7 linked regions of the Homo sapiens genome follow. The protein of the gene in region 1 purifies or fractionates together with the protein of each later gene. This does not show direct contact. Each region holds a gene or a part of one and is shown in the gene's direction. Other genes may lie near its edges. The genes, in order: SENP1, FAM170A, PRDM1, KCTD13, RNF146, OTUB2 and LRBA.

Region 1 (4,306 bases):
CAGGAAGCACAGGGAGCAAGTGCAGCCTAGGAGGAAATTCTGAAGGGCAAATATGTTTGTTATTTCCCAGGGATTTTCTTATTTGTGAAGCAAATTCTTCACTAAGACCTATTTCTGTTCTCAGTGACAATGGACTTGCCTCTCTCTCTCTCCCATCTAACCTTTGTTCTTATGTTATTTTTGTGGAAATAAAATATAGCAAAGTATGGGAACTTAAACTAAGATATCTAGAAAGTATAACTTTGTGGAGTTTTATTACTAATGAAATGCTCTTGTGTTTCTTTAGGATCAGACTCTGTGATTTTACTGAAAGTGAAAGATTCCCAGACTCCAACTCCCAGGTAAACTTTGGAAAAAGCTTGTTCTTTATTAATTAATTAATATATCTTTTTGAGACGGAGTCTCGCTCTGTTGCCCAGGCTGGAGTGTAGTGGCGCGATCTTGGTTCACTGCAACCTCCACCTCCCTGGTTCAAGCAATTCTTCTGCCTCAGCCTCCCGAGTAGCTAGGATTACAGGCGCCCGCCACCACGCCCAGCTAATTTTTGTATTTTTAGTAGAGATGGGGTTTTGCTGTGTTGGCCAGGCTGGTCTCGAACTCCTGACCTCAAGTGATCCACCTGCCTCGGCCTCCCAAAGTGCTGGGATTACAGGCGTGAGCCACCATGCCTGGCCTAAAAGTTTCTTCTTAACATATTGTTTTCCCTTTCTTTAATCACAGCTTTTTCACTAAAAGTTACATAATGTAAAACTACCTCAATTCAGACCTTTCTCACGTATTACTTGAATTATTTTAGTGGCTTTATAATTGTTCTTCCTTCAGCCTCTATTTTGTTCTTCATTCCGTCTTCCACCATACCATGTTCTTGAAACAATTTTTCTGCCTTGCTCTTTTTTCATTTGTTTTTGTTTTTGTTTTTGTTTTGAGACAGGGTCTTGCTCTGTCACCCAGGCAAGAGTGCAGTGGCACAATCATGGCTCACTGGAGCTTTGAACTCCTGGGCTCAAGTGATCCTCTTGCCTCAGCTGGGACCACATATGCATGCCACCATACTTGGCTAACTTTTAAATTTTTCTTTTGTAGAGACGGGATCTTGCTATGTTGACCAGGCTGGTTTTGTACTCCTAGCCTCAAGCGATCCTCCTAACTTGGCCTTCCAAAGTGCTGGGATCGTAGGTGTGAGCCACTGCACCCGGCCTGCTGTGTTCTTTAGTCCATCTTCCATGCTGCAATCAGAGTGATCTTTCAGAATTCATGTCTGATCATTCATTAAAGGGGTTTAATGATTATTTGTTAACCTCCTTCAAGGGTGGTTTATCAGACATTGAATTAAGCTCAGGCTCCTTACTATGGTATACAAAGCACTTCTTTCACAAGCCTCACTTTCTCACTTTTAACAAATATTTACTGAGAGCCTACTGTGTGCCAGGTACTAGTATAAATATTGAGGATAATAGGGAACAATGTGAAGTCCCTATTCTCAAGGAGCTTGCATTCTACTTGAGGGGAAGGATGAAGGACAATGTGAAGTCCCTATGCTCAAGGAGCTTGCATTCTACTTGAGGGGAAGGATAAACAAATGTATATGCCTTGTGATAAGTGCTATGAAGAAAATTGAAGCAGGGTAATATATAGAGTAGGATTGGGAGGATACTATTTGTATAGGGTGGTCATGGAAAGTCTCTGATAAAGTGACTTGAGCAGAGACATGATGGAGGTAAGAGGGAGCCATATGGAAATATGGGACTCTTTCATGTGTTTTTATAAGCTGGACTATTTTCAGTTTGCAAATACAATAAGCATTTCTTACCTTCACATTCAGTGTTCTTTTTGCCTGGAATGTCCTCCGTACCTCAACTTTGTCTGTCAGTAGTGTTTTATCTTTTAGGTCTCAACTCACATGTGAACTTCTGCATGAAACTTTACTTATCTGGAGGTATCAAATACTTCTTCCTCTGTAATACAGTAATAGTAATCCATAGTAACCATTACTATGATTGCTATGCCTTTGCCATATATGGCTTTGGGAATTCAATTGCTAGGATGAGAATAATATCAGTTTTCCGTTGAGAAGATTAAGAGTAATGAAATATTCTTTCTCATCTCAGTTCCCCTACTTCTTTGCAGCTCCCCATATGTTCTAAGCTTTAAATATTTCTTAAAATTCTCTATTTGTTAAGTCTTTTGGGGAGACTTCATAGTTTGGATTCTTTATTTCTTACATCTTTTTTGGAGTCAGATCTGCCTTCTGATCTTGGGTTGGAAAAGGCTTCATGTAGCTTTGGACAAGTTACTCTTATGAACCTCAGTTTCCTTATCAATAAAATGCCAGTATTGATACCTTACACTTAATTGTGAAGATTAACTTACAGATAAAACACTTATTTTTATAAGTGCTTCACATGAAATGCCACAAGATGCATGCAACTTTCTTGGGAAGAAGTTGATCTCTCAGGTAAAGAGTTGATCTCAGTTCCTTAATGGTTCTTTACTAAGACTGCCTTTCCTTTACGGAGGATTTCCCCTAGTGATGACTAAAGAATGAGATGGCAGGAGAAATGGTCTGTTGGGTAAGGCTGTTTGAGCAATGCTCTTTGTCAAAGTTGGTGCCTACTCTGCTGAGGCTTGGTTTATTGGCTCTCTACTCTTAATTCTCCACTACTGCCTCTCAGTTAAGTTCCAGTAATGAAGATCTGCTTTTATTTCCCAGAATATGCTATGCTGTGTCATACCTCTTTGCCTTTATACATTCTGATCCTTCTGTCTGGATGTCCCTTTCTCTCTCTGTCTACTTGGTAAGCTCTTATTTTGCTTCCTTTTCTTTCTTTCTTTTTTTTTTTTTTTTTTTTTTTTTTGTGACAGAGTCTTGCTCTATCATCCAGGCTGGAGTGCAGTGGCACAATCTCTGCTCACTGCAACCTCCGCCTCCCGGGTTCAAGTGATTCTCGTGCCTTACCCTCCAGGGTAGCTGGGATTACAGGCATATGCCACCACACCCAGCTAATTTTTGTATTTTTAGTGGAGATTGGGTTTCACCATGTTGGCCAAGCTGGTCTCGAACTCCTGACCTCCGGTGTTCCACCCACCTCAGCCTCCCAAAGTGCTGGGATTACAGGCATGAGCCACTGTGCCTGGCCTTAATTTTGCTTTTCAAAATCTCATCCAGGTGTTATTTTTTTTTTCTCAGAAGATTTCTTTGACTTTGCCAGATAATGTTAGTTTTTCCCTCCATCCTTCTACCTTGTTTGTTACTAATACTTTTGTATCTGTCACCCATTGCTGGTCATAGTGCTTGGCATATGATGGGTGCTCAGTAAATAAATCTTTGTTAAACAAATGAATTTCCTAGATAGCCTGAAGTGCTCTCTTGAGTAGCCCAAGTACTTATTCCTCCCCCGCTTTTTTTTAATGCTTTCATCTATTGAAAGGCACAGTCGAAAGAACACAGTCTTTGGAATTGGACAGATAAGATTTCTAATCCTAGCCTTTCAAGAGAAATTATCTTTTTGAACCTCCTTTTTCATTTCTGTACAGTATGAGTAATAATTCTTTTTTATATATTATGTTGAGGTTTAAATAGTATAGGGATTTTCATTAGGCTTAACTAATACATAAAACATCTAGAGCAGAGTTTTACATGTAGAGCACTAAGTATGTGCTCAAAAACATTTGCAGTTATTATTACTATATGCCTCAATTATATGAGAAATAATGCATCTCTTTGGAAAAGCAGATTTTCCCTGCATTTTGTTTTCCGGAGCCAGTGGATACCTTGATCCATTGAAGAAAACTGCTTGTCCCTACATTACTTGTTTATTCAAGAAATACTATATGGCTGGGCATGGTGGCTCATGCCTGTAATCCTAGCACTTTGGGAAGGCCAAGGTGGATGGATCACCGGAGGTCATGAGTTCGAGACCAGCCTGGCCAACATGGTGAAACCTCGTCTCTACTAAAATAAAAATAAAAAAAAGAAAAAATTAGCCAGGTGTGGTGGCGGGTGCCTGTAATCCCAGCTACTCAGGAGGCTGAGGCAGGAGAATCTCTTGAACCCGAGAGGTGGAGGTTGCAGTGAGCCGAGATTGTGCCACTGTACTCCAGCCTGGGCAACAGAGTGAGAGTCAAAAAACAAACAAACAACACTAAATGCCTACTCTGTGCCAAGCACTATTCTAGTTGCAGATCATTTTTTTTTTTTTAAGAGACAGAATCTCACTATGTTGCCCAGGCTGGTCTTGAACTCTTGGCTCAAGCGATTCTCCCACCTCAGCGTCCTAAAGCACTGGGATTACAGGAATGAGCCACC
Region 2 (4,821 bases), on another chromosome or scaffold:
TACAAGGCTACATTTGCCCTATCTTCATTCTCCTTCTGCCTGGGGACAGTCTGCAGTGCCCTTTCAAATTTGGGCCCATCTTGGTCCTCTGGGTATTTCTACTGCTTTTTTAATGCAGTGATTTCTGGGAGTCCCCCTCATACTTGTCAACTAATAGTCCCACTGGACTGGGGCCACTGCCCCAAATAAGGTGTCTCTAATTTTAGATTGGAATCAGGAAGATCCAGATGGGTTGCCACTTATAACTGGTATACATTTCAGCCCATGAGCAGAGATGTGCAGGAAATAGTATGCAATTTTCTTATGTAACTCCATTTAATTTGTAATTTAAGCCTTGGTTCTGTTGATGTCCTCTTTGGATTTCCACCCCTCCCTATTTGGAAATCATACAGGGCTGAGGTTTTGAGGGTGGGGTGAGAGCATAGTCTCTGGTTATTGGAGCATACAGCTGAAGTTTAGATGCCCATCAGCTCAGCTGCCAGGGAGTCTTTAGGTGGTGTGGCTCCTATGCCATGTGTGAGATAGGTCGCCATGATTCTGCCTGTACGCATAATACAGGCAGCCCTTCTTGAAGTTTTTGCCACATGTACCTCTTCAGCCACATTTTAGAGGGCTCCTCTCCTCCATAGTTTGAAGATCCCTCTCTCTCTCTGACCTAATCAGTACCTCTCAACACTATAGTAGAGCAAGAAGGGGGCATGCCTAGTTAAAAAAAATCCTGCTTCCGTTATGTTTCTGCTAACTTTCCTCTTTCCTACAGAGTTTGAGATTTTAGAAATAAAAGTCAGGTGGGGTGTGGTGGCTCATGCCTACAATCCTAGCACTTTGGGAGCCTGAGGCAGGAGGATAGCTTGAGGCTAGGAGTTCAAGACCAACCTGGGCAACATACTGAGACCCTGTTTCTCAAAAAAAAAAAAAAAAAAAAAAATTAGCCGGGTGTGGTGCCTCGTGTCTGGTGCCTGTTGTCCCAGCTACTCGGGAGGCTGAAGTGTGATGATCACTTGAGCCTAGGGGCTGAAGTGACCCTATGATCACACCACTGCAATCCAGCCTGGGCAACAGAGAGAGACCCTGTCTCTGAACAAACAAAACAAAATAAAAACAACAAAAAAAAAAAAAAGAAAGAAAAGTCAAGATGATTAACATGCTATTGCTGCTTTCAGCCCTGCCATACCCCTCCTCTGAGCAATGAACACAAAGCCTGCTACCTGCTTGAGTCCAGAAGGGAAAGGGTGAAAAAAAAAGAAGAAAAGAAAAAAATTAAACAGAACATGTTAACATCTCAAAATATTCTGCCACATTTGAAATACGGGAGAGTTGAATTCATTAGAGGACTTCTATTGGAAAAAAGGAATTGTTTTTGAAAATGATGTCTCTGCAGTTGCACAGACTGTGTTGGACCTAGGTCCGTAGAACGCCGTGATGTCATCATTGATGTCAGAGAATCTGCGATGGGCCTGGTGACCTTTGAACCTTAACAGCCCTGCAGTGTAGTGGGCACTGGGCAGTGCTGCTCCTTCACTAAGCGGTCTGAGTTCTTTAGCTATCTCGGAGATTCAACTACGTTTACTCGTACTGAATCTTTTTAATGAATTTCCTGAGAGCCAAGAAGGGCCAATCTACAGGAAAAAGTGGGAGGTGGACATTAAGCATCTTCTAGAAACTCTTCTAGCTGATATCATGAAACGACGACAAAAGAGGAAACATTTGGAAAATGAAGAGTCCCAGGAAACCGCTGAGAAGGGAGGAGGTATGTGCGGGGCAAACTTTCTGGGGCACAAGCGTCACTGGCCAGCCTGAGCCGCCTTCTTTTTCTTTTTTGAGACGGAGTCTCGCTCTATCGCCCAGGCTGGAGTGCAGTGGCGCGATCTTGGCTCACTGAAAGCTCTGCCTCTCGGGTTCACGCCATTCTCCTGCCTCAGCCTCCCGAGTAGCTGGGACTACAGGTGCCCACCACCACGCCCGGCTAATTTTTTGTATTTTTAGTAGAGACGGGGTTTCACCGTGTTAGCCAGGATGGTCTCGATCTCCTGACCTCCTGATCCGCCTGCCTCGGCCTCCTTTTTTTTTTTTTTTTCGTTTCTGAGACAGAGTCTTGCTCTGTCGCCCAGGCTGGAGTGCAGTGGTGTGAGCTCGGCTCACTGCAAGCTCCGCCTCCCAGGTTCACGCCATTCACCTGCCTCAGCCTCCCGAGTAGCTGGGACTATAGGCGCCCGCCACCACGCCTGGCTAATTTTTTTTTTTTTTTTTTTTTTTGTATTTGTAGTAGAGACAGGGTTTCACCGTGTTAGCCAGGATGGTTTCGATCTCCTGACCTCATGATCCACCTGCCTCGGCCTCCCAAAGTGCTGGGATTATAGGCGTGAGCCATCGCTCCCGGCCAGCCTGAGCCTTCTTTAGGGAGGAGAAACTGAGGAGAATGTACCACCTATGCAGTAGGGAGGGGAAGACCTGGCTGTTGGCTGATGCCCGCACATCCATCTTGAGGGTACCCAGATGTGAGACGGACAGGAAGTTCAGATGCCACTGGCACACAGAAAGCCAACCCTGCTGGGCTGAGAACTTTTGCTCTGGGGCTGCTGGTACCTGGAACTATGCCAGTCTCAGGCAGGCGGGGGACCCACTTACAAAGACCCAGTGATGCAGCCTGAGTCTCATCTTTCTCTCGTATTCTCTTTATTTGCTCTTTCTCTGGGGTGACTGAGGTGGAAGGTGTGAAGGGTGCTGGTAGAAGTCTATGATTTGCACTACACCTTTTAGCAGAAACGAGAGTAGCCCAATGAGTTAAAGGCCTTGTTGAAAAATATCTTGAGAAGTGAAATGCTTGTTAGAAAGTAGATTAAACACTTGTTTAGGGATGGCGTCATAGTGAAACCACGGAGGTTTGATTGCTTCAGCGGGAAGAATTAACCAATTAATCCAATAGAGTTTGTGAATCCACAGTGTGGGACTTCCCAGAGGAAATGAAGCACAGGGTAAGGGCCTCAGATCGCTGTCAATTTACTTCCCAGGCTGCATGATAATGGCATGTATTAAATGTAAACAAGCCACTTATCCTGAAAGGGGGATGCTCACATGCAGGAGACAGGGCAGAAAGGAGCCTGCCCCAGAGATGGCCCTGGAGGCTTCTGCCCCGATTAGAGCTCAGCAGCGCCTATGAGGCATAAAGACCTGTAGGTTGAGCCCTGGGAATGGAGGCGTGGAGAGTAGGCATGGAGAGCAGGGGGCTGGGACAGGAAGGGGAAGGCAATGGTTTTCCTCTCCTTCATCTACCCTTACATTTCAGAATGTTTTGTCTGCCTGTGTGTGTGTCTGTGTGTGCACATGTGTGTGTGTGTTGGGAGGGGGAGGACTGGAGATAATGGGAGCACAGTGGTGGGGTCTGCGGGGTGAACTTCCTATCACCATGCCTGGGCCTGGGCAACACTCAATACACATAACAGTGTATACCGAATTTTTGTTAAGGGTATTCCAGGAGACAGTCACTCATATGCCCATATATACTCTGATACAGAGAAAGAGTCACACACCTCCACACACAGTGGATATAGTTATATACACATACCGTTCCTCTATTACATACTCACACAACCCATGTGTGTGACAGTCTTTTCTTCCTACAGAGATTTCTTGTGTGTGGGGAGTGTGTGTGTGTGTCTCCTCAACTCTCACACAAACACATCTATGTTAAACTATCTCTAAATACCTCTTTAAGAGCCAGTCACACATCATACATGCCATATCTGCAACACATTGTGTAGCAGAGCCAGGCCTGCTTTGCATAGACCACAACGAAACAAAGATTCACCACCATCCCCTTATTAGGGTTGCCGGATAAAATACAGGATGTTCAGTTAAACTTGAATATCAGATAAACCACCAATGATTTTTTAGTATAAGTGTGTCCCAAATATTTTATGGAACATACTGACACTAAAAATAAGTATGACAAATATTGCACGGGACATACTTACGCTAAAAAAATTATTTGTAATTTATCTAAAATTCAAATTTAACTTGGCATCAGCTATTTTTGTTTGCTAAATCTGATGACCCTTATAAATTCATAATGAGCTGACCTATGATATACTTATATATTTCTGCTTAATGTCTGTCTTCCTTGTCTAGAATGGAAAGTCCACTTAGAAGAAGGACTGTTTTGTTCAGTATTCCTAGAGCCTAGAAGAGTGGACTGGTGTCTGATTCATGGTAGCTGTTCATGAAAATATTGCCAGATGAATGAATTAATGTACATTATAAATACAAGCCACACCATACAATCAGGAAAAATTACATATTGCATAATTTCAGGGTTGTAAACACAAAACTATGCACACAAACTCCACAGACACAGACACATGTTTCTACAATATACCCACACAAATCTACACATATCAAAGGCTATCTGGTATGTATCACTCTTACGCTTCAGACGTACTCATAGTCACCACACAGGCCTATGTTCCTATTGATACACTATCAAAATACCTGTTGACTGTAATTAAATACTGGAGTATCCACCAGAAGCCTGTCTCACAAACCATGTGTGTTCACTACACCTGACATAGGTCAGCCACTCAGTAAATATTTGTTGGATGGTAAATGATGCACAAACATTACCCATCCATCATATCTCTGTTCCCTTCATACCTTTCTCAGGAATGTCAAAGTCCCAAGAGGATGCCCTGCAGCCTGGATCCACTAGAGTGGCCAAAGGCTGGAGCCAAGGGGTGGGAGAAGTTACTTCTACCTCCGAATACTGCTCCTGCGTTTCTTCTTCACGCAAGCTCATCCACAGTGGTAAGGGTGCAGGGTTCCTTC
Region 3 (4,306 bases), on another chromosome or scaffold:
TGTCCCTGTTGTACAATATCTCTTAAGGGAGAAAACTTTTTCTTGGAAAAAAAAGTTTTAATATTTCTTTTGTCTGTCTTTGGTAATTAGTTGGCTTTACTCTTTTTAACAAGCCAGCTTTATTAGCTGGGTTTCTAAAACTATCCTCAAAACTTTGACGTGTTTATGAAGTGAAGTGATGGTATAAGCCGAGAAAGGGGGTCATGTAAAAGTGTCCTCTGTCTGGATGACTTCAGAGCTAACCACTGTTTATCTGCAGCAGCTCCTTTGCTGGGGCTGGGCTGGCAGGCCAATTCCTTACTGGCCTCTGAAGTGGGTACACTCTTTGTTGTTTCAAAGGGGATGAAAACCCAAACTTGGAATGAGCAACTGATTTGTGTTTACCTTTAATATAAAGATTATAGCTAGGCGTGATGTTTAGCTGTGAAATAACTTGCAGAACCACCTCTTGTTTTCAGAATTTGGCTTACTGTAGTTGCACTTACTAGTCTACTACTGGGTTGAGTTGAATGAAAGGACCCCTCAGCAGACTTCCCATACCACCATTAGCACAGAGCACTGTCAATTCTATTACTTCCTTCAGAAAGTAGGGAAAGGGGATGGTTGGCCGTAGAAATCCAGAATTTGCTACTGGGACTATTCCTTACAGCCGTGTCAAATCACTTTCCCCCTTCCCTAAGGAACAGTATTTGAAGGAATCCGGGAGACTAGGAAATGCTTTGTCTCTTTCCTGTTTGTGTGTCTGAGTCCAGTGTTTTTGGTGAGGGGGAGACACAGCTGTCTAAAATTAAATAGAACAACGATGCTCAGTCTTTCTTTTTTCCCCCACTGCTGCGTGAATGGAGGCAGATTTTATAAAAAATAAAATTTAAATTCTAGTTGTAGTTGAATGTTACCAAAAAATTTAACCCCAGAGGTCAGCCTTAATTATACCTCTTCCTGAAAGTAATGCTCTTCTTATAGAAAGTCTCTCAATATGTGGCCCTTGGAATGAATGTAGGATTTGTTTGGGTATATGAGGTTTGACTATGGCTTTAAAAAGTGTAGTGTGTTTTTTCCCCATATCAAGTTTGACCAAATATTCGTCTGTTCCCAAGCTTCGTTTGTGCTGTGTTGCCCTGTCCAGTCCTTTGGGACTGAAGTAAAAATCTCCATTCTGTGGGTCATCTTTGCCTTTTAATTCTATAATGTTCTTATCGTCAGTTCAGCTCTTAGCTTAAGTTTTTCAATTTCCGTCATTCTCCTTTAAAATCATAGCTAAGTCAAGTAATGCTCTTAGATCATTTAGTTCAAGGTTCAGAAAGACAGTCACTTACCCAAAGGCATATAGGTAAAGCCAGACCGGGGACTTGAAGCAAAGCTTTTCTGACTTCTCCAATGAGTGCTTCTCGATTATGCTACACTGGCCCCTCTTGGTGTCACTGTGGTTTTAGTTATCATCTTAATATATTTCAGACCAATCCTTAAGCTATTTTGTGTTTTTTTCCCTCTGAATGTATAACTTCCTATTTCAATATATTAAGCAACCAAAAAACAGACAATGCCTGTGTTCCTGAAGAAGGTCCTTCGAAACTAACCTAAGAGGTGAGGGTTCTCTTATCCTATTTCCCTATCTTGCATTTAACTGAAGCGCTTGAATAGAGGATAGTATGTCTTTAAACCCTAATCATAAAGTCAAGCAAGGAGTAAACTTGAATGTAATACTGTCTTAAGCTTACTCTGGAATTTGTACCTGTTTTTCTGTTTCTCTCCTTTGTTTTTGAACTTTGGGAAAGGACAGCTTCCTTTAGAAGGTGAAAGAGGATGGTGGAGTTGAGCCATTAAGGGTAGGATAGCTGCAAACTAGTTCCGGGACAGCAACATTAAGGATTGATGAAATGTTTACATTATCTTTATTCAGTTAGTTCTTTAAGTTCCATGAGCCATTGAAATAGGAAGAGTCTTTCTACATGTACTTTTTATCTGACTTATTAATCTTGCCCTTCTTTAAATGTTTTCGTTTAAATAGCAAAAGATGTTACAATATGTACTATTGTGCTGACATACCGGGGAATTTTTTTTTTACAAGACCATTTTTCATTATGAATTTGTACCATGTGTCAGCACCTTTTTTTTTTTTTTGGTTAAAACAAAACATACAAATCATATTTCTGATCTTGACCCTCATTTTTAGATTGGGTTTAGAATCATTCTGCACCTTTAATGAAAAACTGTTCTTACTTCCTATTTCCAGAACTGAAATCAAATATAGACCTACTATTCAAAACTTTGAAAATGTTTTAAACTGATGGGTTATTCTTTTATGGGGGTTTTCCCCTTGTCCTCCTGAAATAATCTCTTATGACTACTTGACTACAGAAAAATCAGTTCAAGCATTTATATTTTAGAAGCGTTACCCTGTAGAGTTTCTGCCGTCGGTTGAGACTGCTTGCACTCAAGAGGCACTGTGGCTCTGTGAGTCTCACCTCCCTGTATCGTGGCTGATAAACATCAGACAGATTGTGAGGACTCCTTTGGTGTCCATTCTGATCGAAATCCATTATTAACTCAAGCCATCTGTAAAAAGTATCTCACCATAACATGCAATTCTCTCTTCATGTTGCCTTTTATTTGAGAAATGATGTACCAAGGCATCACCATGTCTCCTTTAATAGAAAGATAATGAAGAAGGAAACCTTCTCCAAACAACTTTGTTCACTTCACTCCTTTTAAAAATGGGGTGATTGCCGGGCGCGGTGGCTCACGCCTGTAATCCCAGCACTTTGGGAGGCTGAGGACAGCAGATCACCTGAGGTCAGGAGTTCAAGACCAGCCTAGCCAACATGGTGAAACCCCATCTCTACTAAAAATACAAAAATTAGCCGGGCGTGGTGGTGGGCGCCTGTAATCCCAGCTACCTGAGAGGCTGAGGTAGGAGAATCGCTTGAACCTGGGAGGTGGAGTGAGCCGAGATCGTGCCATTGCACTCCAGCCCAGGCAACGAGAGTGAAACTCTGTTTCAAAATAAATAAGTAAATAAATGCCATTGCACTCCAGCCCAGGCAACAAGAGCAAAACCCTGTTTCTAAATAAATAAAATAAAATAAAAATGAGGTGATTGCAGGCTGAAGGTCTTGGTCACTACTGAGTTCTAGTTCTCTCAAGACAAATATTCATATGGTCAAAACAGAATTATAATCTAACGAGTCATTCTTATAGAGTGGGATTCGGGGAGGGAAAACAGATAGCTAGTAATTTAAATGATCTTAATGTAATTTGGGGAGAGGATGATCAGATGACATTTAGACTTGGATATAGTTTCTGCTTCAAACCCACGCTGTGTGTGTCTGTTTGCATACTCTCTAAAGAAGGAATTTGAAAAAAAAAAAAAAAAACAAACCTATATTGTCCTTGTTATCAGCCTTCCATTAAGCGCTCCAACTCAACCCATCCTAAGCTGTCAAATCTCCTTCATTGTGTAAAATTGAAAAGAAGCCCTGTGTTTTGTCCGGAAGCTGTGGAAACTGTGGACGGCGGGGTGTGTTCTGTAACTGAGGCCACAGACAGAAACAAATCTGCTCAAGTGGTGGAGGGGTCTGCACCGCACATAAAGAGCTTCTGTGGGAGCAGGTGAAGCAAGGAGGTATTGAAGCCGGGTGTCCTCTTGCTGTTGAGTTTATAGAAGGCACAGAGCGGCCTGTCCCCAGCAGTAATTCTTTAGGACCCTGGTCAGTTCCAGTGAAGTTTCCTTCTTGAGTTAGGTGAACACATTCTTTGTCTTTTTAGCACTGTGAAGTTTAAGCTACACACCAAGTTCCTCCTTAGTATTTGCTTGGTTCAAAGATAAACTGTTACAAACTATGGGTCAGGGAGATGGGTAGTCTAAGATGCACATTCTGGATCTTTCTAGGACCAGAGGGAGACTTAGTACTTGGTTTTTTCACTTCCCTTTAAAAACAATCCTGGTTCCTGTTCCCCCTCCAAAGTTACCTGGACAAGCACCATAGTCTTAGAGTTTCAGCTTTTATGGCGTCTGTGTCTCAGACGTGCATTTGAGATGAAGATGTTTACTGTATATTAGAACGCTAGACTTAGAATGGATATAGGTGGTTTGTAAGTGCCTTCCAGTTTTGAAATTTTATGATTTTGTATCTTTATCTATAGGTGTGAGTTTATATGTGCCCTATAGCACTGTATGTAATTGAAATTTAAAATATTAGGGCGCTCTGTCCCTTTCCTAATGATAAGCTAATATTGAAGCTCTTTAATTTGTCTGGGGTTTGAGGATTATCATAGACCTCTCTTCTACCACAGAGCCTTCTCTTTT
Region 4 (4,306 bases), on another chromosome or scaffold:
CTCTGTTAATTTTAGAGAGTCTTATGAGTTTCTGCAAAAAACAAATCTGGAATTTGTATTAGAATTGCGCATTGAGTTTTCAAGGTTGGGAGAAGTGAGAGGGATTTTGGCATGAAGATTCTAGAAGACAGAAGAGAAAGAAGCCCATGGGTTTGCTTCAGATTTCTTTCTCCAACGTCATCCCACCCAATGAAGTTCATTCACTCAACAAATATGTTCATTCATTCAACAAATACAGAGCATCAGCTGTATACTAGGTAGTTATTCCTAGGTGGGAAGAGACAGATCATAAACAAATACAAAAAGTTAGAAAAAGTCAGACACTAACTGCTGTGTAGAAAATGAACTGATAGGCCTGGTGCAGTGGCTCACGCCTGTAATCCCAGCACTTTGGGAGGCTGAGGCGGGCTGATCACCTGAGTTCGGGAGTTCATGACCAGCCTGACCAACATGGAGAAACCTCGTCTCTACTAAAAATACAAAATTAGCTGGGTGTGGTGGCACATGCCTGTAATCCCAGCTACTCAGGAGGCTGAGGCAGGAGAATTGCTTTAACCCGGGAGGTGGAGGTTGCAGTGAGCCGAGATGGCGCCATTGCACTCCAGCCTGGGCAACAAGCGAAACTCTGTCTCAAAAAAAGAAAAAGAAAACTGATAACACAAAAGGCAGGATGTAGAGGAGGCTGTTTTAGCCAGGGGGGCTGGGGAGGGCTGGCCCTGAGGAGGCACTGTGTGACCTGCGATCTGAATGGCATGACGGACACGCCACGCTGACAGCTGAGCAAAGAAGCATCCCGGGCAGGGGCACAGCCAGTGGCCGGGGCAGGCACAAGCTGGATGTGTGAAGCAGCAAGGTGTCCGTGGGACCAAGGCCCAGCAAGCAAAGGGAGAGTGGCAGAGAGGCTGGCGGAGCTTGGAGCCTGCAGAGCCCTGCGGACCACTGAGGAGTCTGGAGTTGTTCCCAACCAGCTTTTGAAGGCTTTTAAGTGGGGGAGTACGTGGCCTTTGGTTGTGCTGTTAACCACCTTCCGCTTCTTCCCCAGCAAAAAAGGGAGACGCTGTCCCCGCTGTGCCTCATCCCCATGGTGACATCTCCCCGGGAGGAGCAGCAGCTCCTGGCCAGCACCTCCAAGGTGAGGCCCCCAAGCCCTGCAGGGTGGAGGCTCACTGGGGGGGCCTCTCCCTGCAGCCTCACCCCTCTCGTCCATCCTCTCTCCCCCGCCAGCCCGTGGTGAAGCTCCTGCACAACCGCAGTAACAACAAGTACTCCTACACCAGGTGACCGCCGGGGTGCGGGGCACTGGGCGGGACCCTGGGATGCAGCACAGCCCTGCTTCTGCCCAAGGCGAGGGCCACGGCCACACGGGGGGCCTACAAGAACATCTGTGCCTGCTCGCAGATTCGGCTTCGCCTCTTACCCCTGACGCTCTAGGCAGGTCCTTTCTGCTTCTCAGCTTCAGCTCAGTCATCAGTAAATGGGTTTGGGTGAGGACAAAGTGATAGTGGCGAGCCTATCCCAAGTGCTCTCATTCTAGGAACTGGCAGAGTCCTCCCCCTTGAGGTCAGTACTGTTGTGAGCTCCATTTTACAGATGAGGAGGTCGGGACACCAAGAGGTGAAGTAACTTGCCTAGTGTCACCCAGTTAAAAAATGGGGACACCAGGACCCCCGGGGAGGTGGCCTGGCTCCCGGTCCCTCACTGGAGCTGCTGTGCTGTGCTGTGCTGGGATTTGCTCAGCGCATGTGGCTTCCCTTCTGAGACCCGTTTAGCCTGGCCCCAGGGGTGGAGGAGGCTCTCTGTTGAGCACCAAAGCCCTGGGCAGGAGCAGAGGACTGGGAATGCATCCAGGCCCGTCTTCTGGGGGTACAGAGGGAGGGGTGCCAACTGCGCTGAGGCCTCCTGGTCCCCTGGTCCCCAGCACTTCAGATGACAACCTACTTAAGAACATCGAGCTGTTCGACAAGCTGGCCCTGCGCTTCCACGGGCGGCTACTCTTCCTCAAGGATGTCCTGGGGGACGAGATCTGCTGCTGGTCTTTCTACGGGCAGGGCCGCAAAATCGCCGAGGTGTGCTGCACCTCCATTGTCTATGCTACGGAGAAGAAGCAGACCAAGGTCAGAGGGGCTCCAGAGCCTATGTTGGGGGCTGGGGGTGGCCAGGACCAGGACCCTGGACAAAAGCAGGTTGGCAGGGGAAGGAGCCCACCACCAGGAGGCAGGAGCCAGATCCTGGGGTCTGGGGTGCACAACAGTGGGCAAGCCACCCTATCCCTGTGGGTCTCTGTTTCTCTGTGAAATGGGGGTCACGGGTTAGAGCAGGGTGCTTAGCCTAGGCCTGTTGGATGGGTTTCAAGGCTGTTTGCAACTCCTGAAATGGGGGTGTATGCATTTTTCTGTATAGGGGGTCCATAGTTGCCATTAGAAACTCAGAAGGGGTGAGGCATAGTGGCTTACGCCTGTAACCCCAGGACTCTGGGAGGCCAAGGCAGGAGGATCACTTGAGCCCAGGAGTTCGAGACCAGCCTGGGCAACATCGTGGGACCTGATCTCTGTAAGAAGTCAAAAAATTTAGCCAGGTGTGGTGGCTTGGTGACATGATGGCATGCACCTGTAATCCCAGCTACTCAGGAAGCTAAGGCAGGAGGATTGCTTGAGCCCAGTAATTTATTTATTTATTATTATTATTATTATTATTTGAGATGGAGTCTCGTTGTGTCACCAGGCTGTAGTGCAGTGGCACAATCTCCGCTCACCGCAACCTCTACCTCCCAGGTTCAAGCGATTCTTCTGCCTCAGCCTCCCCAGTAGCTAGGACTACAGGCACGTGCCACCATGCCCAGCTAATTTTTGTATTTTTAGTAGAAACGGGGTTTCACCATGTTGGCCAGGATGGTCTCAATCTCTTGACCTCGTGATCCACCCACCTCAGCCTCCCAAAGTGCTGGGATTACAAGCGTGAGCCACTGCCCCCAGCCTATTTTTTTTTTTTTTTTTTTAGACAGAGTCTCACTCTGTTGCCCAAGCTGCAGTGCAATGGTGTGATCTCAGCTCACTTAACCTCTGCCTCCCAGATTCAAGTGATTCTCCTGCCTCAGCCTCCCAAGTAGCTGGCACTACAGGCACCCGCCTCCATGCCCGGCTAATTTTTGTATTTTTTAGTAGAGACTAAATGTAGTAGAGAAGTCTCTTTAGTAGAGACTTCGCCATGTTGGTCAGGCTGGTATTGAACCCCTGACCTCAAGTGATCTGCCCTCCTCGGCCTCCCAAAGTGCTTGGATTATAGGTGTGAGCCACCGGGCCCGCCCTAGCCCAGGAATTTGAGGCAGCAGGGAGCTATGATCATGCCACTGCACTCCATCCTAGGAGACAGAGTGAGCCCTAACTCTAATTAAAAAAAAAAAAAAGGGAAACTCAGAAAGGCCCATTGCCAAAAATAGATTCTTAAAACCTCAGAATCAGATGTCTCTTAGAACATCCTCTGAGTTTGTAGATCCTGAGTCATTAATGTGGCAATCATCAAGATATTCCCCAAGCCCCTGCTCTGTGCTAAGTACTGTACCGGGCTGGAAATCAAGGGGAATGAAGTGCTGAGCAAAATACAAGCCCTTCCTCATCTGGTCCCTTCCGAGCTTACTATGAGCCACATGCCTCAGGTACACCACAGTCATCACAAGTCTCTAAGCACTCAGTGCTATTTCTTACCTCTTACCTCTGCACACACTGTTGCCTCTTGGAATTCTTTCCTTCTATCTGCCTAATGAACTTGTACTTAATCTTAAGACTCAAGCTAAGCATCACTTTCTTTGGGTCACCTTCACTCATGAACTTTCAATCCAGCAACCCCAAAGTTGGTCACACTCCCTTCATAGCTAAAGACAGTGTTTTATCATGTGTGGTGGAGGGGAGGGGGTTTGCATCAGCAGCGAGGTGTTAGTTCCTTGAGGGCAGGGCCATGTCTTTTTCTTTCCTATCTCCCATTAGCTGGGCCCTTTTCACACAGTGGAAGCTAGGAAACATTTATTGAATGAATGAATGAATGAATCAGTGACCCAGCTTCCAAGAAACATCCTCTGATTGGGAAGATAGGAAGATAAACCAATAATTAGAGTGCATGGCTCACACCTGTAATCCCAATACTTTAGGAGGCTGAGGCAGGGGACCATTAAGGCCAGGAGTTTGAGGCCAGCCTGGGCAACACAGCAAGACCCCATCTCTACAAAAAATAAAAAAAAATTAACTGGACATAGTGGTACACCCAGGTACTCAGGAAGCTGAGGTGGGAGGATCACTTGAGCCCGGGAGGTTGA
Region 5 (4,306 bases), on another chromosome or scaffold:
TGATGGGTAACTGCAGCTGCAGACCCATCTAGGGTGTGTACCAGGTAATTTAACTTCTTGTAATGGCATGACTTCTTGGCTTCTTGGGAGCACTTCTAGCATCACTAGTGGCACTTCACATGGGTCCCATGGTGTTATTCAAGGTTTATGGTATTGTACTAAACATGATGAAAAATACACAAGAACAAGAGATTACATTTTACTCCAATACATGCAGAGATGATTAGTGTCCACAGCATTTTAAGTGGAAATTCATAATAGCAACAGGAAATTATTACAGTATGTACTACAATTAATTTTATACAGCTATGATTCATACTGCATCTTTACATTTGTTTAAATTTCTTGTACCACCTCAAGTGGCACCATATGTGTCTGTGTTTACTAAGTTTTGATACACTTTAACTTCTTATAATTTCTCTATATTTTATAATACTAAATGATAAAATAGACTATATATGTTTTATGCATTCATAATATACCTAATTTTTTCTTTTCCTTTTTTTGATGTTTCAAGACTACATGATTCATCTGCAAGTTTTTTCAAATTGTCACAAATCTCCAAAAAAATTTCCAACATATTTATTGAAAAAACTGTATGTATATAAGTCAACTTGTTCATTTCCAACCTGTGTTGTTGAAAGGTCAGCTGTATGAGGTTATCGTCAAAGATCTTTAAAGAAAGAAATGACATCATCAATATTTTGAAAATTAGAGAAAGCCATTTCTAAAGGAATCCTAGAAATGACTTCAGGCCAGAATTAGAAAAAAAAAAATTGAAGAAATAGGCTAAATAAATATGTCTTTGGCTGTGTTCTTTTGAAAATGGCATTAATGTATAGAAAGATACTCGAATGTGAGTTATGGTCACTGATACATTCTTTTGTTTACTGCTGAACATAACTGGACTAGAGGAGTGTAATGAGGGCAAGGATGTTCTTTCTGTTGAAGGAGAAAGTTTATATTGATGGAAAGTCATTATTCATAGATACTTTGCTGTTATTTCAGTACTATTAAGTAAATAGTTCTCTGCTCCTGGGTTTGTGTGTGTGTGTGTTTTCTTTATAAGGGGCTTTTTCAAATAATTTTGCTATTGATAAGTTACTTGAATTTAATCATTAGTCTTCAAATAAGGAAAGCAGAATGAGAGAATGCATCTCCTTGAATTAACCAGATTTTTTTTTAGTACCTTTGTTCTAGTGGATATGTAGCAAAGCTTTTACTTTAATATTTGTGGCTATAGCTTTATTTCAGCTATGTGAAATAGTTTTATAGGAAAGATCACAGCTTATTTGGGTGTTCAAATATGGGTTCTTTAGAGGATTTTTTTGTACTTATTTTGAAGCTGCTTTGTTTCAGTTAACTTAGATTCCTTTAAGAATCAACTTTTGTTTCAGAGATAAAATATTTATGGATAAGACCTAAGTAAAGTAAGTGAATAGAGAGGAATAAATTAGATTGGTTACAGATAATGTGTAAATGCATTCAGGAGATAAGGAGAATTAGAAACAAGGACATTTTTTGTGTATTTCTTAGGAATAAAATGGTACCTTCTACACATCTCAATTATTAAAGTACAAATAGTGATTGAACGAAATTTTTAGAAGAAATGTTTTAATTGAATCTTCACACTAGAGGTTTTACCATTCAATCAATTAGGTTCTGAGAAGGATGGATTGGTACATCTTAAAAGACTTGTAAGATAGCGAAGGATAGGCAGTGCTAATGACCAACAGCAACACTCAGCAGGACTTTGTGGACCAAAAAACTTCAAGTTAGAATTGTGGGTAAAGGCTGGGCATGGTGGCCCTCACCTGTAATCCCAACACTTTGGGAGCCTGTGGTAGGAGCATCACATGAGGCCAGGAGTTTGAGGTTTAAGTTACCTGCAGTCATACCACTGGACTCCTGCCTGGTTAACAGACGCTGTCTCTTAAAACAAAACAAAACAAAAGAATTGTGGGTAAAGTAAGAGCAAATTGACTTTTGAGTGATGGTCCGAAAACCTTTGTGATGGGTAAAGGGTAGAATGTCTGTATAATTTTTCTGAACTGGAACACTTGTTGGGAGACCAAGGGCAAACTGGATAGATGCTGGGCTGACCTATGTGGTCATCCTAGTGAAGAATCATAAGCTTTATTGGGGAAAGAGCTTTGTGAAGCTGTTTTGGCTGTTCAGAAACCCATCTTGGTTTATGCTTAGATTTTTATCTCCATTTTGGAGAATTCATTGACAATGAACAATAGCTGGGTAAATGATTTGCTTGCCAAAAGATACAAAGATGGGTTGAATTTTATATTTGTAAATGTAGGAACTCCTTTAGATTTTAAGTTATATAAAGCAAGGATTAGAACTTAGATATTTTTATGTATCTTACAGATTCCAGCTTGAGTTCACAATTAGAACTCAAGTGTTGTGTTATTTGAATAAATCTAATCCTTTGATATTCTGTTCCTCACAATAGTTACTTTTAGGAGTTGATTTTTCATTCATCCAAAAAATATCAGTTCAACAAAAATTGATTGACAATTTACTAGCTATTTAAAGATATAAAAATCTCCCTATCTTCAGGGGATTCATGATTTCACAGAAGAGTCAGACTTCACAAATGAATTGAAATTAGTGCATGTGATAAATTCCGTAATAGAAAAACATACAAAACATAGAGGAGAGAACAGTTAACTTTCTGGAGGTAGTCAGAGAAAATGGTAGAGATAACCATTTCTGTGTAATATATTAAAGAACAAATAGGCATTCATAAGCTGTAAAAGGGAATAGATCGTACCAGGCAGGAGGAAATACAGAGCTACAAAGGGAGGTTTGCAGGACTATGAGTAATTTTATACAACTAGATTATTAATCTATGGGTGGTTGTTGAAGATAAAAAAGACTAGAGACTAATTATTTACAGTTTAGATCTTTAAAACCTTTTAATGTTGTCCTAAGGAGCTTTGTCTTTATTGTGTAGGCTGAGGACCCAATATTGTGCTTCACATATGGAAGAAACCTGGTCCATTTTGCCTTTTAAATATATCAGTCAGTCCTAGCTACTTGGGAGGCTGAGATGGGAGGATCGCTTGAGCCAAGCAGTTTGAGGTTTTAGTGAGCTATGATCATGCCACAGCATTCTAGCCTGGGAAACAGACTGTAGAGTGAGTGTATGTGTGTGTGTGTGAGAGAGTGAGAGAGAGAGAATCTCACTCAAAGGCTTAATAAATGAGGGTGATACTGACACAAGATAATCAGGCTGAACAATAGTCCAGGTGAGAGTTATGTAGGTTTAAACTAGGGCACTAGCAATGGGTAGAGAGTACAGGATAGATTCCAAAGGGATTAGGAATAAAAGTTGACAGAATTTATGGTGTGGTTGGTTGGGGTGGGGGAGCAGGGGGCTGTGTGGTGAGAGAAAGGACTTTCTCTTTTTCTCCATGAACACAAAGTAGTTAAGACATGAAACCTGAGATGTCATATTGTAAGAATTATGCAGAAATGGGGGTTTGTAAAATGTGTGTATATGAGATAAAGATATGAGGGGGCCAAGGGTTCTGTTAAGAAGTAAAAAAGATTGGGTTCCAGAATGGGCAGGAAAGGAAATGAGATCAGGAACTGGATAAAGGAAAGGAGATGGTCAAGAGATGGTAGGTCCCCATGAAATTGAAGAGCAGGTGTGGGAATGAGTAGGCTGGAAGAACCAGAGCTTGTGATCTGAGAGTCGGATTAAGATTTCAGAGAGGCAGCAGTTTAGGTGACAACTAGCTTTAAATGTGATTATAATATTTGGTTGCTGGAGAGTAGATTAATTTCTTCAAATTTAGGATTTAAGGAACTGAAAATTGAGGATGGTGTTTCTCAGATTGTATTTGAAGGACTAAAGCATGAGTACCACCTGGGGTGAGATTCCTAGGTTTAAACCTATGTCTACTGGCCTAGAATTTCTAAGGAAAGGGGCTGAGAATATGTATTTCTAACAAGCAATTTCAGTGATTCTGATGAATAGAAGTTGGGACAAGTTTAAGAACCTGTGCAATAGGTGTTGGATGGTTCATTTTCAAGGCTATTTAAATAGGCTGATAGTCATGTCAGGAGTTAGGATGAAGAGGATGATCAGTAGTGAAAAGATGACATTAATCCCTTACAGGTGGTGAGAGAGCAGTTTTAGGGGATTATGGGGTATGTTAAAGTCAGTGTGATAGAGACTTGAAAGAAAAAGTAATGATGTTGGAGCAGTAAATTGTCTCCTCCTGTCCTATATATAGGGAGTGTATGAAAATGTGCAGTTTTCTGTTTGGCGTAGGCTGCAGCAAGG
Region 6 (3,500 bases), on another chromosome or scaffold:
TGCTCTATTGCATAAAAATGGTCTCCCTGGGTTGTGTGCAGGAGCCAGCCTCATTTATTTTAAGCTGTAAACTATAAGTGGCTTTAACACCATGTCTCTCACAGTATGTTCATGCTGCAATCAAAGCGGCTCTGGGTGGGTTGGAGGCTAGAGTTGCATCTCCTGCTTGTTTGAGCCCTGCTGACAAGATAGCACAAGGCGGAGACCAGGCCCACGGGGAGTTGGCTGCTAGAACGTGTCTCCTGCAGTTTCCTTCACCCTGAAGCTTCCTTTTGCAGTTGCCTCCTCTCTGTCCGCCAATTTCTTCTCTGGCCTGGAGAGATCCTGCCTGTAGGAGGCTTGTCTTTCTGGGTTGGAATTGACCTAGACCCAGAGCTGGGCTGTAGTGTAAACTTTCGCCGGTAGGTGGTGCATGAAGATGCCCTCCTGCCCTGTGCTCCCCGAGCTCAGATCTCTGACACCTTCTCTGGCATCTCCATGTACCAGTGCCACACACTGCGGCCTCTTCTGGTGACCTTATCACCCCCTATCTTGATTGTTTTTCCCTGTAGACTGTGAGCCTTGTGGGTGAGGGAGTGCTAGACGTCCTTCCTTCTGTATTTCCAGCATGTGACACAGTGCTGGGCATGTGGATGTTCAGGAATTGTTGGATGAGTAAAAGAATGAATGAACGAATGAATGAATGCATGAATGAGAGAAGAGGGATGGAAGGAGACAAAGGGCCTTATCCTCCAGCATGAAGGTTCGTTAAGTTTGAGGTACACATTCTGTGAAATGAATCAGGCTTCCAGTAAAAAGATGAGTTTCCTTATAACCAGGGCTATCTCTTCACGATGGCCCCGACCCTGACTATCCCTGTTCTGGAAATGCGGTGATCCCAACGGGCGTCTAGGATGCTGGTAACATACTCCCAGCATGAGAAGGTGGGAAGGTCTCATTCATTGTTGTCTGTAACCGGCAGTTCAGAGGCCACCAGCTCGGGGAGTCCCGTCCGTTGCTTTTGAAATTGTCACAGCATTTCTTCCTTCCCTATCTTTCAGAGTGAAACATCTTTCAACCTAATATCAGAAAAATGTGACATTCTATCCATTCTTCGGGACCATCCTGAAAACAGGATTTACCGGAGGAAAATCGAGGTGAGGCAGAGGGCAGGGAGAAGAGCATCCGAAACTAAACAGGCTGGAGTTGGGAGTGTAATGGTGATGCCTCTTTGAAGGCCGATAGTTTGGGCCAGGTTCCTGGGCAAATGAAAGGATTCCTAGGATATTTTGATGTTGGACATTTGCCTTAGCGATAAATCCTTTCATTCCAAAAAAAAAAAAAGGATTTTTTTTTGTTGAAAAGTTTAGCACTATCCTAATGTTTTATTTACTCACCAATACTTCATTACAACTCTGTGAGGTAAGTACTTTTATTACCCCCATTTTACAGCTGAGGAAACTGAGGCACACAAATTAAGTGGTGGCCATTTAGTTCATGAGTGGCCAAGCTAGGATTTAAACCCAGGCAGCTGAGTCTCAAGCCACATTCATAACTGCTGTGCTGGGAGACCTCTTGGAGGGAAAGTTTACGCCAGTGAGGCTAAAGGGATTTGTGGGAAGGCTGCAGGGATCGCTCATGGAGCACTCACCCGTGGATGGCAGGAGGAGCTGGGTGCCCACTCTGTCCCTCTGGTAGGAGGCCCTGGCCGCTCTCTGCACTCTGCAGGTCTTCCTCTCGCTGCAGGACAGGCTTGCTCTGGCACTGGCCCCACAGGCCCTTCCCTTCAAGTTCCTCTCAGACACGCAGCACCGTTGCTGGGCCTCATTACTTATCCTCAGAGACTCTGATAGGTCCAGCTTGGGTCAGATGTCCATCAGCAGCCAGGGGTAGTGGTGTGGGCATCATGTGATCCGAACGCCGCTGCGGGGCACTTCCAGGGAAGGAGCTGGGCTCTGCAGCCCACTGACTTTTGTGTCCCCCAGAGCCCTCCTGGGAGATGAGCCAGGGGCTCCAGAGAGTGCCTGCCTCCCCACTGCCAGCTGGCCTCAGGTGGGCCCAAGTCGGCTCTGAGCCTTCTCATGGCTATGGGGGGAACAGGAACTCCAAGACCCCTTGAAAACCATCCTCTGCTGTCAAAATGCTGCTTATAGTCCCATGAGGCAGGAAAGGGGATTCCAGGCCAGTTCAGAGGGACACCTACTTACTGCTAGGAGTGGAGCTGGAGCCCACCCCTCCCGCCCCTGCTCACACATGCAACCCCCTACCCCCTACTTCTGCCAGCTCCCGATTCTCAGTGCTGCTCCCCCAGGAAGGCTTCCCCAACTTCCAAAATCCAGTGCAATGCCAGTGCCCCGTGGCACCCAGCCAGGCACTCCTGTCCCCTCACAATGCCACTGTCTAATTATCCATCTTCCCTCCCGGACCGTAGGCTGCCTGGGGGCAGGGACGGACACACAGGACAATGCAGTGTATTTTTATATCAGGGGAATGAACGAGGGTGGGAGGCTGAGGGGATAGCAGCCTGAAGGGAGGGAGCAGACATTTCCTGGGAGAGATGGGGGGCACCTGGCCAGTCCCAGTGCCCAAACCACACAGAGCCGTTGTTGGTGCAAATGCCCACATTTCTTTCTGTCCCCCTCAGGAACTCAGCAAAAGGTTCACCGCCATCCGCAAGACCAAAGGGGATGGGAACTGCTTCTACAGGGCCTTGGGCTATTCCTACCTGGAGTCCCTGCTGGGGAAGAGCAGGGAGATCTTCAAGTGAGTGCCGGGGCCCCTTGGCCTGTCAGGGCTGTGTTCTCTGTGCTAGGTCAGCCTCAAGTCTCTCGGAGGTTTTCGTTACACTCAGGCTGGTTAACCCAGAGAATGAGCTGAAGAGCTGCCTGGCAGAGGCGTTTGATGTTGGGGGTGCCCAGCTGCCTGCTGTGGTGAAGTTGGGGGCAGCCAAGGGGTGGAGGATGGAATCTGTGACCTCCCAGATGCTTTCCAGCCTCTGCTTCCACCACAGGCCTGGGTCAGCCCAGGTGAGTCGCAGGGAGCAGGTACTTCGTGACCCACTCTGAAAAGAAAAGAAAAGACAAACAAAAAGAAGCTTTGCCCCGGTGTTCTGCATAATTCCTGTTGACCTTGGTGTGGAGTGTGTGTGACCCAGGCATTCAGCTGGCTGGGCCTGTCCCTGAGGTTCATGCTGGAGAAGGTCTGTGTCCAGAGCTGCCCCTGTCATCTCGGCTAGTTCAGGGCTTCTCATATCTGAAGTTTGTACAAGGCGCCTGGTTCTCTAGTCCATAGCAAGAAAAAAAAAAGCAAAGACAAACAAACCCCTGAGACCTGGCTTGGACCCGAATTCCTGTCCAGTGGGAGCAGGGCAGAGCAGGGACTGCTTTTGTCACTGGCTCCCAGGAGATGCTGATGCTGCTGGGCCTCAAACCACGCTTTGAGGAGCAAGGAGCTAAGAGACCCACCTGGCTCTTAACCTTTGGGGGTCTCAGAGCCCTTAGAGGCTTTGGTGAGGGCCATGG
Region 7 (4,306 bases), on another chromosome or scaffold:
GGGACTAAGGCATGAAAATCACTTGAATACGGGATGCTGAAGCTGCAGTGAGCTGAGATTGTGCCACTGCACTTCAGTCTGGGTGATGAAAGGAGATATCTCACAAAAATTACAAAAATAAAAAAGTTACAAAATGTCCGCATTTCATGGATTATCAGCACTTTGCACCTTATTTAATTGCTAAATAATTCTTTAAAAATACCTGATTTCTGTGTGAGTGTTTGTGTGTGTGTTTTTATCAAATTTAAATGGCACTTAAAAAAAAAAAAGAAAAAGAGAGAGAGACAGACTGTTGCTGTGCTTCCCAGGCTAGAGTGCGGTGGTTCTTTACAGGTGCCATTATATATAACACACTACAGCTTCATACTCCTTGGCTCAAGTGATCCTCTCCCTTCAGCCTCTCCAGTAGCTGGGACTGCAGGCATGTACCTTTGTTCCTGGCTAAAAGTATTCTTAGCTTTAACATTTTGAAACCAAATAGCATTTATTACTTTAAAAAATTTAAAATAATAATAAGTTTTCATTACAGGAAATCTTGAACCCAGCAGAAATGCATACACACAGAAAACAAAAATTATCCATTATCCAAACACCTATGTATAACTTATTAACATTTTAGTGCGAGACCTTTTAGTCTTCTCTTCTATACATGAATCTATACATAACATATAATTATTTGCTAACAAAATGTGATCGTATTTTTACTATTTTAGAGTATTATTTAATGATATGCTTCTTACATGAATTTTAATGCCTGCATATTATATGACATTATGGAGAAGTAAAGAGCATAAGATTCAGCTTTGATATAACATTTGAATGTTATCAGACCACTTAAAATTCTAGGAAGGAGTGACCGTGTAAATGATTCAAGTTTTCTTTTTATATTCTGGCATTCTCCAAAATTGTATTTAGAAAAATTGATGGAAGAGAGATTTAAAAAATCTATTGATTTATATTATAATCATACTTTATCTGTTCCTTATCATTGACCAATGATGAGCCTGGTTCAATACTGTAACCCTTATTTTGTAGGATAAATTCCTGTAAGTGGAATTTCCAGAGGAAGGAGTCTGTACATGTTTTAAAAAGTTTTTAGTAGATATTGCTAAATTGCCCTCTAAAAATTTGTACCAGTTTATACGCTAGATTTGCATGAAAGCATCTGTTTAGACTGTTTTTAAGAAATTAAAATTGATCAAAATGACTGTTTTAAAAATGAAAAGATTAGAAGTTATTTGCTGCAATATTCTTTTGTCAGTGTTCTTCCTATCTTTATAAATGGGGATTGTACTACCAACCTTTAGAATTGCTCTTAATTATGTCAGTAATGCTTGATTTTACCATTATATCTGTTACCTATACCATTGTTATACATCAGAGTCTTTATAAAAGATCTCATTAATGTGGTGGCAATCATTTTGACTTATGCTCATTGATAATACATATGGGAAGATCCACCTGTTTTTAAAGATATATCTTATTTATCAAAGGTTGGTAACTTAATCAGAAGTTAACATCATATTTAGCTGGTATTTTCATATGAAAACAGACACTGAAAAAGATGCCTTTGCTTAAAAACAAAGTCAGTTGCTAAACATTGCCTAACAGTTTAAAATGTCTAAATTTTACAGGTTATACGGTTTTAATGTATAGATTAAAAAGATAATATTAACATCTGGATGTATTGTGTTTATCTTTTATCTACTAATTAGTAAATTTGAGTGCCAATTAAGTTGAAAATAATGGCAAAAGAAATGTTATAGTCATTAGCTCACAAGTATCTTTAACTAGTAGTTTATAGAAGTGCTTTCCAAACATTACAAACAGCTATAGATTAGCTATCAAATGATTGTGAAGATTAATGACTAGTCTTTTAGCTGGGTAATTTAGAACAATATCTGGCAATTAATTGGAAATTATCAGTTTTAAAGTCACAAATATCTTAAGGAAAACAGCATCCAAAAAGATAATACTGATAGTTGTTCAATTGCAATTTAGCTTTTAGACCATTGGATGAATTAAATTAAGGGCAAATTTAAAAACCAAATGACTTTAGAATTTTAAAAGCATTTCAGATTCTGAAGGTAAATGCTTTTCTATCTGTGGTTTTATACTCTGACTATTAATCAAGTATGAAGCGAGAATAAATACCTTTTCAGGATTTGAGATCTCAAAACATTTATATACATCCTTTCTTAAGAAGGCACTGCAGGATATTGCACAAAAGGAGAGAATAATACAAAGAGGAAGAAATGAAATATAAGAAACAAGAGACAACATAGAAGAGAGATGAAGGGGATCTCCAGGACTGTAGAAAGGGAGATCCCAATAGCAGCTATGTAGTAGGCAGATGACAGTCCATCTGGACTGGAGCAGTTTCACTCAGGAGAGGTGGACCTGTATTCTTATTAGGAGTACTTAGCTTGCTTGCCTTCATCATGTGCTGATTAAATTCCTGTTTTCCTGTCTAATGTGAATCACCTGAAGATTCTCACTTCACTCCACAAAGACATGCTGTGCTTCGACCTACTTCTTAGGGTAGAGGTTCACCATGGTGAGCTTAGAATTGAAAAATATAAAGTATTTCATGCCAATACACTCTACCTGGCACACACTGCCTCTGATAGGTTCTCCAGTTCTCTTGACCTCTATATTTCCTGTATTTCCTAATGACTTGCCTATAAGACTTCCCAGAAATGGCTTTACATATTCTCTCAAATAAGCTGAAGCCCTGCTGCAACTCACAGATTCTGTGTATCTTGTCTTTTCTTGGGAGCTCAGGTGTGGCAGTATTGCTCTTTAAAATACAATTGGCTAGGTTTGTGTTAGACTTAGTTTTTTAAACTAAACATAATGGGTATGTTTAGTATATAGATAGTAAAACTATCTTTTAAAATTATCTCCCAAAGCTCTGACCTCCAGGTAAAACTATTTATAAACAGTGAACGATAGAAATACCAGGATAGTGATTTTTTTCTGATTGTAGTGGAGAAATAGGGAGTACAGTTTGGGCAGGGCACATAGGGGAATTGTGAGGTACTGGTAACGTTTTACTTCTTGACATGGGTGGTAGGCATGTGAGATTAAAAAAAATTGTTTCTTAACCTGTACATATAAATTACATATACTCATGTTTATTGATCCATTGTATAATACAAATTCTAAAAACCTTTAATATAAATAAAATCAAAGCAAATGATTATTGAAAACTAAAGTCATTCTATAACACAGGCTATTGTAGAAATAAATGGCCTATTTTCAAAATGACTGTGAGGTTGGTAATATGTAACTTGCTTTCTTTTGACAATGATAATTGTTTGTTGGTGGAGAAATGCTCTCTCTAAAGTCAGTTTTCCAAAAAGTAGGCTAACCAGTCTTATTTTTTTGGAGACAGAGTCTCACTCTGTCACCCAGGGTGGAGTGCAGTGGTGCTATTTTGGCTCACTGCAACCTCTGCCTCCTGGGTTGGGTTCAAGCAATTTTCCTGCCTCAGCTTCCTGAGTAGCTGGGATTACAGGTGTGTGCCACCATGCCCAGCTAATGTTTGTGTTTTTAGTAGAGACAATGTTTCACCATGTTGGCCAGGCTGATCTCAAACTCCTGACCTCAGGTGATCTGCCCACCTTGGACTCCTAAAGTGCTGGGATTACAGGCGTGAGCCACCGTGCCCAGCCACTGATCTTTTAAAAAGGGAAATCAGATTGTCTTCCCTACACTCTTAATTCTCAAATGGCTCTCTCAGAATAAAATACAGTCTTTAATACAGTCTATAATGTTCTACAATCATAATCTAGCTCGTGGCCACATCTTTGACCTCATTTTCTTTAGTTCTCAGTTTATTGCTTTATTGTTATTCATCATACATACCAAGCTTATTTCAGCTCCAAGGCCTTTGCATTTGTTCTTCTCTGCCTGAAACTCTTTTCTTTTTACATGGCTTGCTCTCTCTTTTATTCTTGCCTTTGTTCAAATAGAACAGAGAGGCCTACTGCAGTTACACTAGTAAATACACCTTCTCGCCTAGACTTTCAGAACAGTTCTTCACTCTGTACTTCCCCCTCCCTTCAAAGCTCTTATTACTATTTGACATTATCTTACATATTCGTGTGTTTATTTTCTGACACCTTCTTTAGAATATAAGCTCCATGAAGTCAGGAACAATGTGTTCATCACACAATGCCTGGCCTGCTACCGATGTTCAGTAAATTTTTGTTGAATGAATATGAGGAATTGGTCAATTAAAATACAGAACCCATGTCAAATAAAATATTGGCATTGTGAATGTAAAAGAAATTGATATTTT

Evidence for each region.
Region 2: the proteins of SENP1 (region 1) and FAM170A purify together in Homo sapiens (co-immunoprecipitation; one large-scale study listed by IntAct). This does not show direct contact.
Region 3: the proteins of SENP1 (region 1) and PRDM1 purify together in Homo sapiens (affinity purification with western blotting, with the first as the bait; one study listed by BioGRID). This does not show direct contact.
Region 4: the proteins of SENP1 (region 1) and KCTD13 purify together in Homo sapiens (co-immunoprecipitation; one large-scale study listed by IntAct). This does not show direct contact.
Region 5: the proteins of SENP1 (region 1) and RNF146 purify together in Homo sapiens (affinity purification with western blotting; one study listed by BioGRID). This does not show direct contact.
Region 6: the proteins of SENP1 (region 1) and OTUB2 purify together in Homo sapiens (affinity purification with western blotting, with the first as the bait; one study listed by BioGRID). This does not show direct contact.
Region 7: the proteins of SENP1 (region 1) and LRBA purify together in Homo sapiens (co-immunoprecipitation; one large-scale study listed by IntAct). This does not show direct contact.

What each region holds. Positions count from the first base shown.
Region 1 is NC_000012.12:48,067,702-48,072,007, reverse strand, and holds part of SENP1 (sentrin-specific protease 1), read left to right. Parts: intron 1-286; coding exon 287-341; intron 342-4,306. UniProt on the Homo sapiens protein: Protease that catalyzes two essential functions in the SUMO pathway.
Region 2 is NC_000005.10:119,628,089-119,632,909, forward strand, and holds the start of FAM170A (protein FAM170A), read left to right. Parts: upstream 1-1,469; 5' UTR 1,470-1,680; coding exon 1,681-1,750; intron 1,751-4,659; coding exon 4,660-4,800; intron 4,801-4,821. UniProt on the Homo sapiens protein: Acts as a nuclear transcription factor that positively regulates the expression of heat shock genes. Binds to heat shock promoter elements (HSE).
Region 3 is NC_000006.12:106,088,774-106,093,079, forward strand, and holds part of PRDM1 (PR domain zinc finger protein 1), read left to right. Parts: intron 1-4,306. UniProt on the Homo sapiens protein: Transcription factor that mediates a transcriptional program in various innate and adaptive immune tissue-resident lymphocyte T cell types such as tissue-resident memory T (Trm), natural killer (trNK) and natural killer T (NKT) cells and negatively regulates gene expression of proteins that promote the egress of tissue-resident T-cell populations from non-lymphoid organs.
Region 4 is NC_000016.10:29,908,786-29,913,091, reverse strand, and holds part of KCTD13 (BTB/POZ domain-containing adapter for CUL3-mediated RhoA degradation protein 1), read left to right. Parts: intron 1-1,042; coding exon 1,043-1,132; intron 1,133-1,224; coding exon 1,225-1,277; exon of another isoform or gene 1,278-1,431; intron 1,432-1,534; exon of another isoform or gene 1,535-1,918; coding exon 1,919-2,114; intron 2,115-4,306. UniProt on the Homo sapiens protein: Substrate-specific adapter of a BCR (BTB-CUL3-RBX1) E3 ubiquitin-protein ligase complex required for synaptic transmission.
Region 5 is NC_000006.12:127,272,998-127,277,303, forward strand, and holds part of RNF146 (E3 ubiquitin-protein ligase RNF146), read left to right. Parts: intron 1-4,306. UniProt on the Homo sapiens protein: E3 ubiquitin-protein ligase that specifically binds poly-ADP-ribosylated (PARsylated) proteins and mediates their ubiquitination and subsequent degradation. May regulate many important biological processes, such as cell survival and DNA damage response.
Region 6 is NC_000014.9:94,036,340-94,039,839, forward strand, and holds part of OTUB2 (ubiquitin thioesterase OTUB2), read left to right. Parts: intron 1-1,040; coding exon 1,041-1,136; intron 1,137-2,623; coding exon 2,624-2,742; intron 2,743-3,500. UniProt on the Homo sapiens protein: Hydrolase that can remove conjugated ubiquitin from proteins in vitro and may therefore play an important regulatory role at the level of protein turnover by preventing degradation.
Region 7 is NC_000004.12:150,854,347-150,858,652, reverse strand, and holds part of LRBA (lipopolysaccharide-responsive and beige-like anchor protein), read left to right. Parts: intron 1-4,306. UniProt on the Homo sapiens protein: Involved in coupling signal transduction and vesicle trafficking to enable polarized secretion and/or membrane deposition of immune effector molecules. Involved in phagophore growth during mitophagy by regulating ATG9A trafficking to mitochondria.